Linked DNA regions of Homo sapiens. The protein of the gene in region 2 interacts with the protein of the main gene of each other region in a biochemical or structural test. Each region holds a gene or a part of one and is shown on either strand. Other genes may lie near its edges. The genes, in order: PCK1 and INSIG1.

The links.
Region 1: the proteins of INSIG1 (region 2) and PCK1 form a complex in vitro, tested with the Homo sapiens proteins (one study listed by BioGRID).

Annotation. Positions count from the first base shown.
Region 1 is NC_000020.11:57,563,801-57,568,628, reverse strand, and holds the end of PCK1 (phosphoenolpyruvate carboxykinase, cytosolic [GTP]), read right to left. Parts: intron 4,461-4,828; coding exon 4,236-4,460; intron 4,148-4,235; coding exon 4,016-4,147; intron 3,590-4,015; coding exon 3,494-3,589; intron 3,280-3,493; coding exon 2,825-3,279; 3' UTR 508-2,824; downstream 1-507. UniProt on the Homo sapiens protein: Cytosolic phosphoenolpyruvate carboxykinase that catalyzes the reversible decarboxylation and phosphorylation of oxaloacetate (OAA) and acts as the rate-limiting enzyme in gluconeogenesis.
Region 2 is NC_000007.14:155,307,629-155,310,802, reverse strand, and holds the end of INSIG1 (insulin-induced gene 1 protein), read right to left. Parts: intron 2,563-3,174; coding exon 2,533-2,562; coding exon of another isoform or gene 2,445-2,532; 3' UTR 568-2,444; downstream 1-567. UniProt on the Homo sapiens protein: Oxysterol-binding protein that mediates feedback control of cholesterol synthesis by controlling both endoplasmic reticulum to Golgi transport of SCAP and degradation of HMGCR.

The DNA.
Region 1 (4,828 bases), on a different chromosome or scaffold from region 2:
TCTGGAAGGTGCATGCTGTTGGCATCCAGAGGGCCGAGTGAGCAGCCCGGGGGTGTCCAGGTTAGGGTGGGTCCCCAGGGAGAGGGAGAGAAGAGAAAGAGCCCTGTAACTCCTGACTCCCAAGTGTGCCCCGGCCCCACCTAGCCACCCCGCCTGCCTACCTGTCAGTGCCCCCTAAGTGACTCGACTGGGAATAAGGGCAGGTTTGTTGTCCTGGTTCAACATTTGCTGTGTAACTATTGTTTTCTGGTCTTTAACCCAGACTGCAACACAGCTTCCTGGAGGTCAGGGGACAGCTCTTACACTGGACTCCAGTAGAGGACGTCAGTCACAGTGTTGGTTTTGGAGTCATGTGGTCCAGTGGTAGACCAGGAATCAGGAGACTCTGGGCTTTCCATCTCACTCCAACCGTATTTTCAAGTGATGAGCCTCTTGCCTTCTGTGAGCTTCCTGCAAGTGGGCTTAGCTTACATACTTTGCATCATCTGAAGGCACGACAAGAGAACATTGAAGAAAGAAGTCATAGGATCCTGTTTATTGTAGACAGGGGTCCGCGCACAAAAATCAGGATTTGGAGACAGAGGGAGCACTCAGGAGGCATGGTTTGGGGAAACTGAGTCAGGAGTTAATGACATATATTGAATCTTTTTGGTCTCCTGAAAACTCTTATGCTGTGTATGTAAGTCACCTCCTCTAGGCTGTCCCCCAGGCTTGCAGGGCCTGCTGGCAAATGGTCCTATGTGAGACTGCTTGCCAGGTGGCTGATGCTGTGCAGGAGGGGAGGGAATTTGGAGATGGCCAGTGTCTTTGCCTGCCGAGGGAGTGGAGACTACTGAAAGCCCGTAATAGGACAGTGGGGCACAAGGCATGCATTTTAACAAAGTTTATCCTGGTGGCCTCTTTCAGGGGTCCAAGGAGCTGCCCAAAGGCCCCCAAGGGGCGGGGAAATGGAGACCAGGTGGCTTGCACTTTGGACTCCCTCCCCAGCTTCAGGTGGGCTGCCTTGGGCTCTGTCTCCTTTAGACATGGGACTCTGAGTCAAGTACATGTCAAGAACGTGTTCCGCAGTGAAAAGGAGAAACAAGTTTGAACGCCACTGATTTAAACTAATACAGCAGATAGCATTTAATTCCAGTAAGTGGTTTTTCCCCTTCGGTGGTTTTGATATTCTAACAAGCCAACGTGTCTGGAGCTAAGACTCTCAGCTCCTTAATGGGGAAGGAAATCCTGGCAATTTCTCAGCCCCGCTGGACGCTCCTAGCTTGACCTCAGTTTCCTCACCTGTAAAATTGGGGTGATCTCAGCTTCACCTTCCATATGAAGCCATTGTAAGGAGCAGAGGAAGTGAGGAAAAGAGGCAAGTTTTCCAGTTGAGGAGACTGGAGGGGTGGAGTGTGACATAAGAACAAGCCTGCCCGCTGGGGTGTGGTAGGGGTGAAGCCAATTTCACAGCCTGGGCCCAAGAAAGAAACTACAACTTGAAGATAATAGTATTTACACAGATTGAATCTGTGATATAAAGTTTATGGTTCGTTTGGACTGTTCTGGAATATCCAATAAACACTGGGAGTAGAGGAGAGCAGGTGAGGGTTCAAGGCAGAGCTGGGGACCAAACCACCCACCTCTCTTCTCGGGCAGCCCATGGTGTTGGCATGATGTCCGGGATACAGAAGGCGCTCAATTAATGCTTGCTCAACCCAGATCCTGTCCCCTTTTCCTTCTCACTTGTCTTCCTCTGCTCCCCCGCGGGGATGACAGTTGAGAAAACTGTTGCTTTGAAGAGTTAAAAGGCAAAATCCTATGAAACTGTCCACAATGTAATTTTTGTGGAAGCCTGAGACCCCTCCAGATCCAAACTGTCAAAAAGCATGCATTAAACCCTCCCAGTCCTGCCACATAAGCCTCACCATCTAAAGGTTTGTAGAATTGTTAAAGGATGCCAACTAGTGGCTTCAGCAAATTCAGAAAACCCCAACCATGGTTCCCTGCCTCATTCCTCCCCATCTGCTCCCTCCTTCTCCCTGGGACCAGGCAATGCACCCCCTCTTCAAGTGTGATTCTGAACGTCCCCACCTTCTTGGGGAGGGGGCAGGATTTAAATCACAAGATATTTAATCAGAGTTCTCTCCTCTTGGTAGCTCAAATAAGAAAAACCAAGCAAAGCAAATCCATCTTTTCTATAAAACTTCATTTTGTAATTTTTTTCCAAGAAGTAGTAAGGGGGAAATATTGCAATTATGTAAAGGTAAGGAACAATGGTGTATAAAAATAATTTAAGCACAATATTAATAACAAAGCAACTTTTTTTCAAGGAAAACTAGTAGGTCATCTTGCCCAAGATTTTTCCAAAGGTATTAAATATATTTTCAATAACAGTACATACAAATACACATACACAAATATACCACACAGACACATGTGCACATACATGCACACACACACACACACACACACACACACACACACATATATATATACAGCTCAAGTATTTTTTTGGTGTGCATTCTAGCTAATCCACATAGCTAAAGTGAAAAAACACTGAAAAGATCAATGCCTGAGTAACCTTAAATTTGAACAAACTATGCATTGGATGTGAATTTTTGGAGGCATGCTAAGATTTCCCTTCTCAATTTCATTAGCTACTACCCAGTGTTCTGTGGTTCTTATCCTTAAAAAAATCAAAGTGTGCCTTTCAGATCTGCTCACGGTGTGGTGATGATTATTATGGTGGCGTCAATTTGGGAACACTTGCCCTCTCTTGCTCCTACTGCACCTTATGGATGGGAAAGGGAATGATTTTAAAGGTAAAGCACTCAGGCCCTGATTACATCTGGCTTATTCTTTGCTTCAAGGCAAGGATCTCTCTCTCGATTTCACAGGGGAGGTCGGCATTGACTTGATCCTCCAGATACTTCTCGATGTCTTCCACCTCCTTCTCCCAGAATTCCTTGGAGATGCTGAAAAGCTCCATCATGTTGATGTGCCCCAGGCCTTTCAGGTTCAGGGCATCCTCCTTGGGGATGTAGCCTATGGGCGTGAGCTTGGTGCTGGCTTTTCCATCGATCCGGTTGAACATCCACTCCAGCACCCTGGAGTTCTCTCCAAAGCCTGGCCAGAGGAATTTGCCTTCCTTGTCCTTCCGGAACCAGTTGACATGGAAGATCTTGGGCAGTTTGGCTGCTGGGTGCTGGGCCATGCTAAGCCAGTGGGCCAGGTATTTGCCGAAGTTGTAGCCAAAGAAGGGCCGCATGGCAAAGGGGTCATGCATGATGATTTTGCCTGTTAAACAGAGAGGGAGTTCATTAGTAAATGAGGCTCTCCTAGGCAAGACTGACGCCATTGATTGTTGACATTAGCATGCTTTGTTCTCCTCTCTCTCTTTCTCTCTCTCTCTCTCCCCACACACAGACACAGAAAAGGAGAGAGACATAAGAGTGACGAAGAGTGCTCTAATCCCACTTCTCTGTGGTTTCAGATCAGGACTTTGATTTACCTTTATGTTCTGCAGCCGCTGTGGCCTCTGATCTCATGGCCGCCCCCACAAAGACTCCATGTTGCCAGCTGAGAGCTTCATAGACTAGAGGGACACCTTTAGCAGGAAAAAAAAAGAGAAATGTTCATCAGAGGCTTTGAAATTCAGACTCCACAACCAGTGGTGTTATTCACAACACGGAAAGACACGGCAAGACAATAACTTTGTAATCGAGCTAGTTTTGCGTTCACCAAGCTAAATTGCAGAAAACTGCTAACTCAAAGTTACATGACTGAGGCCACAAAGTAAAAAGTAAAATTTGATCAAGCTACAATAGATCAGGGATTCAGAAAGGTTCCAGGTGACCAGAAGGGTTGGTTCTACATTTGAACTTGCCAATTATTCTGGATCTTTGGGAAGGAAGCTCAAGAAAGGAAGCCCCTGGGCACCCTCTGACAAGGTCATGGAAAAGGAGAGATTTCACAGATGCCCTTCGGTACCCAGCACACCCATGTTCCCAGCCTAAATGAAGGAGAGCCTCACCAGCAGGTCTACGGCCTCCAAAGATAATGCCTTCAATGGGAACACCTTCCGGAGACTCCCAGGCAGCATCAATGATGGGGCACTGGCTGGCAGGGGTGCAGAACCTCGAGTTGGGGTGGGCACAAGGTTCCCCTATAAGACAGAGAAAGGCTCGTGAGTGCCTGGCTCAAACAGGCAGTCCCTGCAGCCCGGCACACCAAGGCCTCTGGCAGGGACACACCATCCTCTGAGCTCCACTCCTTATTCTTCCAGGACGTGATGGTGACACCTGAAGCTAGCGGCTCATCAATGCCTTCCCAGTAAACGCCCCCGTCGCTGGTCTCGGCCACATTGGTAAAGATTGTGTTCTTCTGGATGGTCTTGATGGCATTGGGGTTGGTCTTCACTGAAGTCCCAGGAGCGACACCGAAAAAGCCATTTTCTGGGTTGATGGCCCTTAAATGACCTGGAGAGTTTTAAACCAGAGAAGCAGTAGTGAGTGCCAGGCAAAGCAGAACATATACTCTTATATATTGCCGGACTAATTTCTATGCCAACTTCTCAAATCTTTTTTCCCTCCCTAGAATATGCATTTATCTCTTTTCATCCAAGCATCATATGCAACTTTGATACGTTTACGACTCTTGCTTCCTCCACAATTTTCCACCAATACCATTTAAACAAATGTATGTATGTAAACAAACAGCAACATATGGCCCAGTTTCAATCCAGATTGAATATTAAGTTGAAGAATTCTTACAGGATCCATATTTCTAAGGCTTGGCCAACTCTGGACTAACAGAGTTTAAAAATCCAAACACTGGACTGAGGAGA
Region 2 (3,174 bases):
CTCATCCCATCGTGATAACCTGTGAGTGCAAGTAACTCCAGCCACGCCGGCTGGCAGCAGGGAAGCTGCCCCTGTGACAGGCCAGGCATGCCCGCTCCTCCTGCCTGAAAACCGGGTGCCTGTGGTGAGGAGGGGTAAGGTGGCAGGTTCAATTCAGCTCGTGCTGCACTTAAAACTTTCTACCATAAGAAAAACACATACTGTTGACCCTTAAACAACACAGGGTTTGAACCTGTGGGTCCACTTATATACATGGAGCTTTTCCAACCAAACATGGTTTATTTGCTGAATGTGAAACCCACGTATACGGAGGGCTGACTTTTAGTGTACGCAGGTTCCGTAGGGCCAAGTGCCAGACTTGAGTATGCAGATTTTCGCATACGTGGGGTATCCTGGAACCAATGTCCTGTGTATATTGAAGGATGATTCAAATACTTCCCAAGAGGTTGTGTCAAAATTCAGTAAAATTTGAAGAACTGCAAAATATTTCTCCATTACAAATTCTAACATCCTACACAGAGACCACCACCCCAACTGTTTTTTAAAAAGCAAACATAAATACAACACTTGGTTTTGAACCTTTAATAAAAGTAAAAAATGAATGCAAAAAGAACACAATGTTGAAAACTTAGTATGAATGTGAACCTCACTAGATGTTCAAATCTGGTAGAGTGCAAATTTTGTTCATACTATTTTACATTTTTACAAACTCAAATCACTTTGGTTCATATATTTTCTATAAACTATTGGCAAAAAAATCCTCAAATTTACATTCTTTTGGCTACATTATTTCTAACAGATATAGATTTACTTCCGGTTTCGGAGAGAAAGACTTATTGTGTGTGCGTGATCAAGTCTGTTTTAAAGATTCACTCGCTGCTTTCATCTAATAACTTCTGGTTTTTCATAAAATGCTGACATCTTCATTGGAAATTTTTTTCATGTAACTGTTTTCATTTTCAGAAAATATATAAGGGGGTCATTCCAAAGTTCAGAATGATCCTATTTTTTTAAAAAACAAAATTCCTGTAAAACAAATTAACTCCAGGAACTTAAAATTTACTCCAAGACATTTCCCTCAAAACAAAGCAAAAAACCCCAGCAAAGATCGTTACATCACAAAACCAAACACAAAGACCAGCGCTCACAGGCAAGTTCCTCTAAGCTTCCATTCTGCTGACTGGTGGCTTCCATTTAAAAGGAGTCTTTTAATCAAGCCACTTTCACAGAATTTAAAACAAACCAAACACATGTAAATTGCAAAATACAAAAAGGTAAATTTATAAGTAAAAATGACCAAACCCACAAAACTGGAGTATTTCGAAGGTTGAGGGTTCAGTGGAGGGTGTAACACGAAAGGAACTTCACAACTGAAAGAAATCATTGCCGAGTTTCCTCCAGGCAGCACTGAAATGAATGGAGAACCTTCTCTCGAACATCTCACACGTTAAAAAAAATAAATATTTAAGAGATACAAGGCTCAGATTGGTTTTCATATACATTGCACTTGAAGTTTAAGACCCAATACTTGCAAATTAGGTCTGGTATGGTCTATGCCATTAAATGAATACATTGTGCTCACCAATATCATTGACTAGAAACACCACACGTTTAATGCAGTGCCATATGCACTCTCCTTTTTACAAGGCAATCACAGATTGCAAATTCCATAGGGCTGTGGCAAAAAACAGTCATCTCTATTCTGTAGTAACAAACAAACAATTTTGGCTCACTAAGATTGAAATACATGGCAGACAGGTATTCATTCTTAGATGACTATGGATTTCGAAATAAACTTCATAAACTGAGGTGAAAATTCCAATATATCGCAGTGTGGGAACCAAGACTTTTCATTGCCTTTTGCTCAGTAAGATTGTCTACACAAACTGCCACGGGAGGAATGACAAGCAGTTGACCCACTGGTGATACACACACGTGTGACCATGTAAACACGCCACTGCAGGACGGACGAGCGTGACCGTGAAGCGTGGCCACGCCGCGACCCCACTTAGAGTGTGACCTCTCTATAATCACTGCTGCTTTTCTTGTTTTGTTTTTTTTTTTAAACACAGCCCTATTTTTAAAAATCTTTTGGATAAATATTATTCCTATTACACCATACTTCATGTTTGTTAAGCACCATCAACCTACCTCCTTTGGGCACTGACACAAAACTGCGGGTTGGTAATTGAGTCTTAGTTCAAGGCTTTGAAATATGGCAACTTGTTTTAATCACATGAATGAAATCGAATACTTGGGAAGCTGCCACCTGCCTGAACCCACGTAGCCTGGGCAGAATGCTCCAGGGCACAGACAGGCGCCAGTGCGGGCAGTCAAGGGAAGACTTCAGGGTAAGTCATCATTCTCCACCTCCCTATTCTAGACTAGGTGAAGAGTTTTTTCCAGGAGTCATTTGTACAGTCAGCCCGATCTAAATAGATTACTTAAGAAAAAAGATAATCTTTGTCATAATCCACAGTCAGATTTTCTTCCAAAATCTTCCTTGCTCTCAGAATCGGTGGTTTTGAAGACTCAATCACTATGGGGCTTTTCAGGAACACCCTATGTGTAGAAAGGAAAAAAAAAAGGAAAGAGAAAATTAGCACTAAATGTATAAATATTTTAATTACCAATTAAGTAGGTCCTAACATGGGAAAGATTGACACTTTCTTTGACTGAAGCAACAAGATTGAGAGGTGGGACATGTGCAGAGAACTGGAGACCGAGGCCAGCTCTCCCAGCTCCCCTGCACCGTCTTCATGGCTCTGGCCCCGTGAGCCACAGCTCTCACCTGCAAAATTAGGATAATTCTCTGCCTCAGGTGAAATTACGCTGCTGAGGCCCTTATATAAAGCCTGTTATATAAGTGTAAGATATTGGTGAAAGTTTAACTAAATTAATATCTATATAAAGGAAACACCCAATTTTATCAAAGCATGGTGATGCTTAGGGTATGATAGGTTCCTGAAAGTTCTAACTGCAATTTAAGGGATTGAACCTTTATCTGAAGGGAGGTTTCTGCCACAAACCTTTATTAGTATCTGATGCCTGTGTTATAACCCACCTTACCAGCAGTTTGTTGAAACAGACATTGGAAATAGGTCATGCTTTGTAATACTGAAGCTCTGTGTGCCCTCAATTCACACAGAGCTTCACAGTTGGGAAATCCTTTCT